2 separate regions of the Homo sapiens genome follow, and region 2 is linked to region 1. A link means that fine-mapping ties the variant in region 1 to the expression of a gene that starts in the linked region. Tissue or cell type: spinal cord. Region 1 holds a variant in brackets; the other region holds the start of a gene. All regions are shown on one strand. Distances are between the middles of the regions.

Region 1 (4,395 bases):
ATTTCTGTGATTATAGATGACATCTATATTAATCAAATTTTTATTTTATGTGAAAAATAGAGTGCTGGCTGGGCGCGGTGGCTCATGCTTGTAATCCCAGCACTTTGTGGGGCCAAGGTGGGCAGATCATGAGGTCAGGAGATTGAGACCATCCTGGCCACCATGTTGAAACCCCATCTCTACTAAAAATATATAGCTAGGTGTGGTGGCGCATGCCTGTAGTCCCAGCTACTCAGGAGGCTGCAGGAGGAGAATCACTTGAACCCAGGGTGGGGTGGAGGTTGCAGTGAGCTGAGATGGCACCATTGCACTCCAGCCTGGGCAAAAAGAGTGAAACTCCATCTCAAAAAAAAAAAAGTCTGTCTCAAAAACAAACAAACAAAAACCAATGTGGAGATGGTAACTGACATATAAATGTTGGACCAACTTCATATTTTTGTAGTATGTTTCTGAAAAAGGAAAATGTGTTAATATTTTTAACATATCTTTATTTTAATTTTCCTTTCATAGAAAATAAACATGACCCAAAACAGGTATTTCAATAAGGCATCAGGCAGTAGATATATCATACTTGATGATTTTGTTTCTAAATAGAATATTTTATTATAATTTGAATCATAGGGTATCTTTCTTGTAGTGGGTGAAACACTGTCTACGTATGACGAAAATACACGAGATTTCATGTTTCCGGGTCCAAACCAAATGTCTGGACACCATGATTCAAACCGCCAGGTTACCATGAGGAGGATTTCTGGCCTTCGAGTAAGTGCTTGCAATTTTCTGAATCAGTTTTTGATGGAAAATCATTGTCAGAAACCACCGCATAGTGCTCGCCATCTTAAATGTGAAGAACAAATTCAAAGTGTAATTTAGTTTACTTAATTGTTTTGTAGTTTAAATCTTAATTGTTTTAGATTTCAATATGTTACTTAAACATATAAAGATATTTATTTACAGCAATGTAAAAACAGACTAATACAGTAAATTGGTTACTTAAACATATTGAAATCTAAATGAAAATAATTTAATAAAAAGTGCCATTAAAAATTTTTTAAATTGTAATTGACATTCTTCAAATCTCTGTCATCCCCTTCTCTCCCCATCCCATCTCTGTCTCTCTGTCTCTTTCTTCTCTTTATTTTTCTCTCTAAGGGATGATAATAAACATTTGAAAAAATACTCTAACTCATTAGTATTCAGAGAAATCCAAGTTAAAACAACCATATGATTTCATTTATATAGCTATAAGATTGGGAAAATTTAATAAATCTGATAAAAGTGAAAAACTTAGAATCTTTCATATGCTGCTATACCATGTGATATGGTTAGGCTCTGTGTCCCCACCCAAATCTCATCTTGAATTGTAATCCCTGTAATCCTTGTGTGTCAGGGGTGGGACCTGGTGGGAGGTGATTGGATCATGAGGGTGGTTTCCCCCGTGCTGTTCTCATGATAGCAAGTGAGTTCTCACGAAATCTGATGGTTTTATAAGTGTTTGACATTTCCTGCTGCACACACATTTTCTCTCTCGCCTGCTGCCATGTAAGATGATTTGCCTCTTCCCCTTCCACTGTGATTGTAAGTTTCCTGAGGCCTTCCCAGCCATGTAAAACTGTGAGTCAGTTAAACCTCTTTCCTGATAAATTACCCAGTCTCAGATATTTCTTGCTAGCAATATGACAATGGATTAATACAGTACATTGGTACCGAGGTAGTGTGGCATTGCTATAAGATACCCGAGAATGTGGAAGTGAATTTGGAACTGGGTAATGGGCAGATGGAGGAACAGTTTGGAGGGCTCAGAAAGCAGGAAGATGTGGGAAAGTTTGGAACTTCCTAGAGACTTGTTGAATGGCTTTGACTATAATGCTGTTAGTGATATAGACAATGAAGTCCAGACGGAGGTTGTTTCAGATGAAGATGAGAAATTTGTTGGGAACTGGAATAAGGGTGACTCTTGCTATGCTTTAGCAAAGAGAGTGGCAGCATTTTGCCCCTGTGCTAGAGATCTGTGGAACTTTGAACTTGAGAGAGATGATTTAGGGTATCTGGTGGAAGAAATTTCTAAGCAGCAAAGCATTCAAGAGGTGACTTGGGTGCTGTTAAAGGCATTCAATTTCAAAAGGGAAATGGAACATAAAAGTTTGGAAAATTTGCAGCCTGACAATGGGATAGAAAAGAAAATTCAATTTTCTGAGTAGAAATTCAAGCCAGCTGTAGAAATTTGC[A/G]TAAGTAACAAGGAGCTGAATGTTAATCACCAAGACAGTGGGGCAGATGTCTCCAGGGCATGTCAGAGACCTTTGTAGCAGCCCTTCCCATCACAGGCCTTGAGGCCTAAGAGGAAAAGGTGGTTTTGTGGGCTAGGCCCAGGGTCCCTGTGCTGTGTGCAGCCTAGGGACTTGGTGCTGTGTCTCAGCCACTCCAGCCATGGCTGAAAGGGGCTAACATAGAGCTTGGGTCGTGGCTTCAGAGGGTGCAGGCCTCAAGCCTTGGCAGCTTCCATGTGGTGTTGAGCCTGCAAGTGCACAGAAATCAAGAATTGAGGTTTGGGAACTTCTGCCTAGATTTCAGAAGATGTGTGGAAACGCCTGGATGCCCAGGCAGAAGTTTGCTGCAGGGGCGAGGTGCTCATGGAGAACCTCTGCTAGGGCAGCCTAGAAGGGAAATGTGGGGTCAGAGCCTCCACACAGAGTCCCTACTGGGGCACTGCCTAGTGGAGCTGTGAGAAGAGGGCCACCATTCTCCAGATCCCAGAATGGTAGATCTACTGACAGCTTGCACCATGTGCCTGGAAAAAACTGCAGACACTCAGTGCCAACCAGTGAAGGCAGCCATTAGGGAGGCTATACCCTGCAAAGCCACAGGGGCGGAGCTGCCCAAGACCATGGGAACGTACCTCTTGTATCAGTGTGACCTGGATGTGAGATATGGAGTCAAAGGAGATCATTTTGGAGCTTTAAGATTTGATTGCCCTGCTGGATTTTGGACTTGCATGGGGCCTGTAGCCCCTTTGTTTTGGTCAATTTCTCCCATTTGGAGTTGTTGTATTTACTCAATGCCTATACCCCCGTTGTATCTAGGAAGTACTAACTTGTTTTTGATTTTACAGGCTCAAAAGTGGAAGGCACTTGCCTTGTCTTGATGAAACTTTGGACTGTGGACTTTTGAGTTAATGCTGAAATGAGTTAAGACTTTGGGGGACTGTTGGGAAGGCATGATTGGTTTTGAAATGTGAAGATAAGAGATTTGGGAGGGTCCAGGGACTGAATGATGTGGTGTGGTTCTGGGTCCCTACCCAGATCTCATCTTGCAGCTCCCATAATTCTCATGTGCTATGGGAGGGACCTGGTGGGAGATGATTGAATCATGGGGATGGGTCTTTCTCACGCTGTTCTCATGATAGTGAATGGGTCTCATGAGATCTGATGGTTTAAAAAATGGGAATTTCTTTGCACAAGCTCTCTCTTTGTCTGCCACCATCCATGTAAGATGTGACTTGCTCCTCCCTGCATTCCACCATGTGGAAGTGTAAGTCCAGTAAACCTCTTTCTTTTGTAAATTGCCCATTCTCAGGTATGTCTTTATCAGTACCATTAAAAATGAACTAATACAATATCTATCTTAAAGATGTATTCTCTCTGGTACACTAAGAGCCTTCTTAAGAATGTTTACCTGTTGGTTCATAATAGTGAAAAATTGAAATAATTGATATGTCTGTTAGTAGGAGTTTAGATAGATTAATTGTAAAATATGTATATAATGGAAATATATATTCATACACCTAAAATTAAAAGCTGCATCAAGTGACAGCTTACTCTCTATCCTTTACTATAACTTCCTTCAAGTTCTGTGGATGATTTGAAAATATTTTATTGCTGAAAGTAAGTCTTCCATGCAGAGAAACTGAGAGAAGCCCATGCCATTTCAAAAGAGGAAAAGCAAAAATTGTCCAGCTTGAAATTATTTGGATAGACCTTTAAAACTAATTGTATAAAATATTAGAGTAGTCCGAATAAGGAGAGTGTTGATATATGAACAAATATAGTTAACTAAGTAATTTCTCCTATAGATTTATGATATGCCCTATTCCAAGAAAAAGCAGCTTCATCTTTATGAAAGTATAAAAGTTGACTAAGTAGCAAGTCTATAAAACTATACTTTCTTTGGGGATATTTCAGTGTCCATTAGCATGCTTCTGTACTATGAAAGTCTTCAAAGAGTATTTCAAGATCTGTGTGGAAACATACAATGAACAAATAATCACATTTTAAAATTATGGTCTCTTTAATGTAATTTAAAATTCTGTATTATACCAATGTGGTAATATAAACTCAAGAGTATGGAACATTAAGAGGGATTTACTTTTCATCATTTAATTTGAGTTACTTTTGCATT
Region 2 (4,395 bases), 62 kb before region 1:
TGAGATAACACTTTACATCTGTTATGTTGGGGGAAAACAAGAACCCTTGATAATGCCAAGCCTGGGAAGAATGTGGGGCCATAGTAACCTTCGAATATTGGGAGCATAGACTGGTATGGCATTCTGGATAGCAACTTGGAATTATATGGTCAAACTGAGAATACTCATACTCCATGACAACAATTTATCTTCTGTTCATCACAGACTATATGTAAAATTAAAATACAAACACAAAGTGGAAAGGATATTTGCAACATATAGAGTAGACATATAATTATTATCCAGAGTATATAAAGAACTGAGAGAGAGACCAACAGAAAAGGGGGCAAGATAACTACTTGGCAGTTCAATAAGAGATAATGGAAAGGCTAACAAAACCAAAGGTACTCAACCTCAACAGTACCCAGAGATTCAAGATAAAACCACAATGAAATACCTAAAATACACACATCCAAATATACAAAAGTTAAAAATCCAAACACAAATGTTGCTGATGATGTGGAAAAATAAGAACTCTTATACATAAGCACCAGAAACATAAATAGGTACACTACTTTGGAAAATGGTGTGGTCTTACTTTTTAAAGACCCACATGTGCAAAACCCTAATACCCAGCTAACCCACTCCTACGCTAGTACATGTGCATTAATAGACACAGACTTGTACTACAATGTTCACAACATTGTTAATAATAGCTAAAAATGAAAACAGTGTAAGTGATCATTGATAGTAGGAAGGATAAATCAATCTATATTGGAATACTGTCCAGCAATGGAAAAAACTTCAGCTACACAGCATCACCGGTGGCATAATATTAAGTGGGAGAAGCAAATCACAGAAGAATACATACAGTATTAATACCATTTATATACTATCAATACCGGAAAACATTAAACAATATCTTGTTTAGAAATGCATACATGAATGGCAAAAGGAAGAGAATTATTGTACAAAAGTCAGGGTAGTGGTTACTCCAGGGCGAGAAAGGCAATGTAATCGTTGGGGGCATTTTTCAGGTGCTGGTAATGTTTTATTTCTTAACCGGGTGCTAGTTGTACAGGTACTGTTCACATTATTATTAAGATAAACGTGTTTTATACACTTCTGCATGTATAATGTATTTTGCAATACAAATGATTTTTAACATGATTGGATTGGGCAATCTCTTAGGTTCTTTTTATCTTTGATGGTCTATTGTCAGGCCCTTCACAGCTGGACTTATTGTTGGCACCTCATTGACAGTTCCACTTAAGCAATATGCATTAAGACGCATACATGGGTGAATTAGACAGGAAAATTTGAAGGGAAAAGGGAACGCGCTAACAAAGGGAATCACAGAATAGGAGACTAGGAGTATGGACCATCTGATGCAAGCCCCTCTCCTCAGGGAGGCAACTGGGGTTTAACTTGAGAGCTCCTGGGTTCCAGTCCTGGTTCCGACTTTGATTTGGGCAAGTCTCTTCCCTAATTCCCAGTATCCTTATGCTGGCTTTGTAAACCGTGCCGTGAAATTTAAATAGGAGGACTAACAATAATTATTATTCTTTTACAATTGGGAAAACTGAGGCCACAGTGGGTCGCCACTAGCCCAAGGTGCCATCACCACGTTGTAACTCAGGGGTTCCCTCCGACGGCCTTACAGGAACTCCAACTCCCTGAACAGAGCACCGTCCCATTATACAAACAGCAGCTCCCTTTCGTCCGGCTTTGGGCGCAGTTTGACGTCACAGAAGAGCTGCCTTGCCTCACCCCGCCCCTTCGGAAGCCCCGCCCCCTGCCCGACTCCGCCTCGCTCGGCGTTCGTCAAGCTCCGCCTCCAGCGCTCGTCCCAGCGCGGGTAGCCCTGGAGTGCCCCGCGCGGCCTCTCTTCCGGCCCCGCCCCTCCTGGCTGCCATGACAACGAGTCTGCGCCCCGCGCTCAGCTGCTTCTCCGGCGGAACCCAGGCTGGACCGCGGGCCCCGGCCTGGGGGCCACTGCTGCCACCGCCGCCGCCACCTCGTCTCCTCCCCGTCCCCGCCCAGCCCCAGGTCTCCCCGCCTCACTCGGGCCCGTGGCCGGGGTCACTCCCCGCCGCCCCTCCCCGCACGGATGCCGAAGGTGAAGGCGCTGCAGTGCGCCCTGGCGCTGGAGATCAGCTCAGTGAGTACCGGTAGCGCCTCCCACCCCCGGGCATTGGCTCAGGGACTCCCTCAGTCACCTCCGAGAGCCCGGAACCACCCCCAAACCTCCTTCACCCTCCGAATCATCCCTAGGGAGCGTCGACCTCACGCCCCTTCGGTCCTGCCCCATCTTGTTCTCAGAAGCGCTCTCCCACTCCGGCCACGCAGAGGCCTGACCCCTGCTCCGCTATGCTGGCTTCAACCCGACTTCCAACTTGCGCGCTTTCAGATCGTTCCCAAATCACTTCAGAGTTCTTTCCTCGCTCCTAACTTTCCAGTGAGAGAGAGTGTATGTGCGCGGCGCGGGGGCTTTTCATTCCTCTTTCGGGCTCCAGTTCTCTTAGAGAATTATTGCCCCCGCCTTTCCCAAGTCTGGGGGTGGGCGTCGCATTTCCTCCCGAATCCCTGCAGGCACACCATTTCAGACCAGTTTCAAACCCGCATTAATGAAGGGGCCTTTCTTTATTCTGTCTTCGAAGGAGAATCTTCACATCCAACAACTGAAATGTGTCATTGCGCAAAGTACCTTGCCTTCCCTCCCAGGGCCTTACAGGAAAAACCCAACTCCTCAGAAATCACTTCAGGCCCCTCCCGTCCCCAGACCCTTCCGACTTTGTGCCAGCCATTGCAAGAAAGGCCCAGTCATTTTTATGAGGGAAACACCTCCTTCTCCAACCTTGCAACCCCACCCCTTCACTCTCCAGACTTGCTCAAGAGGATGCTTTCCTCCATCCTCCTGTGGAAGTCCAGCTGGGGCAGAGAACCCCACTCATCCAGTGAAGGGGCTGGACCTCTCCATGCTAGGAGAAAACTCTATTCCCCTTGTTGATCTCAGAAGACTTCCAAGGGTTTTGAACTTCTTCCCCTGCATTCTTTAGAGAACCCTCTCATTCCCCTGTTTAGAGGAATACTCCCGCTTGTCTGTTCTGGAGGAAATCTCCACAAGACCCTTTCCACACCCCGTTTTAGTCCTGCAGGCACAGACCTGTACGGAGTTTGGAACCAAAATTCACCATTCGGTCTCTTCGCTCCTTCTTACTCAGTAAGTCTTCTTATGTATATTGCCTTCTGTTTGATCTCCTAGGAAAACTTGGGGGTTGAGAGTGCTGAAATATTACCATTACTCTCCTGGGTGCTGCAGCCAGGAGCCCTCTGCATTTCCTTCCTGTACACCCTACTGGCCAGGCTCCACTTAACCCGTGCTTGCAGCTTCCCGCCTTTCCTGGCTGGCCTTCGTCACGTTAGAATGAGGTTGCTGCAGCACAGAACTTAAACCCCTAGGAAAATCACAGGACTGTTTTAGGTCTTTTGTTAGGTCTTAAAGAAGGCAAGTGTGCGTGGGGCAGAGTGTGAGGCAGTGGTGGTGAAGTAGAAATTTTCTTGGACTCTCCCTTTATCTTCAAGCCTGCAGAGATTTTTCTCGGAAACTCCATAGCCCTAGCTTTGCTTGTTTTCCTCCCAAAGCTGCCATTTTTGACAACTTTTTGTAAAGTAAAATTAGTTTAGCAAGAAGAATGCACGAAACTTTCTCGATCCCTTGGCCCAGGACACAAGTTAGTGAAACTCCTTCAGAGTTCAGCCTTAATAGATTTTGTTACTGGCTTCTTCCTCCTCCTGCCAACTAATGGTGTTTAGCAGTCTGGTGAGCGCAGCTGCCTGACTGGCTGGCTGCAGCTTCCCTAACGTTGCCAATACAAACTTTCTAAGAGGAAGTACTCTGTTGTAACTGATTACTGCTTGAAGGAGTCGGAGGAATAGCTACATTTCTCCTGAGTATTAGTTGTATTGCAGAAAAGTGAATGACTGTGTAATTCACTGTATAACGGAGCTTTGTTACTTATCAGAGCTAAAGAAAACTATGATGGTGGAAATAATATTTTTCCCCAACAAACATTTAAGTCACAGAATTTTATAGTTCCGAGACATCTTAGATGGAAATCATTGGATTCAATCCCTTTTTACAGCCAAGAAAATCGATGCTCAGCATGGCTATTATTTATCTAGGATTGCACAACTGTTTAGAAGCAGATGTGCAAAATGTTCCCGAATTTTTGAACAACAAAAGCCTTTTAAAATGGCTCTGATGCTCAGAAGGAGCAAACAAACAACGCCCCTGACCGCCCCCCCCACAAAAAAAACCCCACTAGCAGACGTAAAAGTTAAACATGTTTGATTGATTGATTAATTTGGCTTTGATTGAATAGAAAGGTTATATGACCCTAGATATTTTTAACA

What was found. PIP is the estimated chance that this variant, and not a neighbour inherited with it, causes the effect. A credible set is the group of variants that fine-mapping cannot tell apart.
Region 2: SPATA6 starts here. The variant in region 1 is the best candidate, but not a certain one, in a credible set for the expression of SPATA6 in spinal cord (GTEx, PIP 0.88).

What each region holds. Positions count from the first base shown.
Region 1 is chr1:48,407,831-48,412,225 of GRCh38, reverse strand. It overlaps SPATA6 (spermatogenesis associated 6), which reads left to right. Exons shown (of 13, transcript NM_019073.4): 5 at 638-762. Among named protein-coding and RNA genes, the nearest start is that of SPATA6, 62 kb to the left of the region's middle. The variant A/G (reference allele first, on the strand shown) is at 2,229.
Region 2 is chr1:48,469,703-48,474,097 of GRCh38, reverse strand. It overlaps SPATA6 (spermatogenesis associated 6), which reads left to right and starts at 1,894. Exons shown (of 13, transcript NM_019073.4): 1 at 1,894-2,140. The coding sequence starts at 2,090. It overlaps LOC124904175 (a long non-coding RNA gene), which reads right to left and starts at 3,728. Exons shown (of 2, transcript XR_007066074.1): 1 at 3,146-3,728. RefSeq lists an enhancer at 1,563-1,612 and a silencer at 1,823-2,212.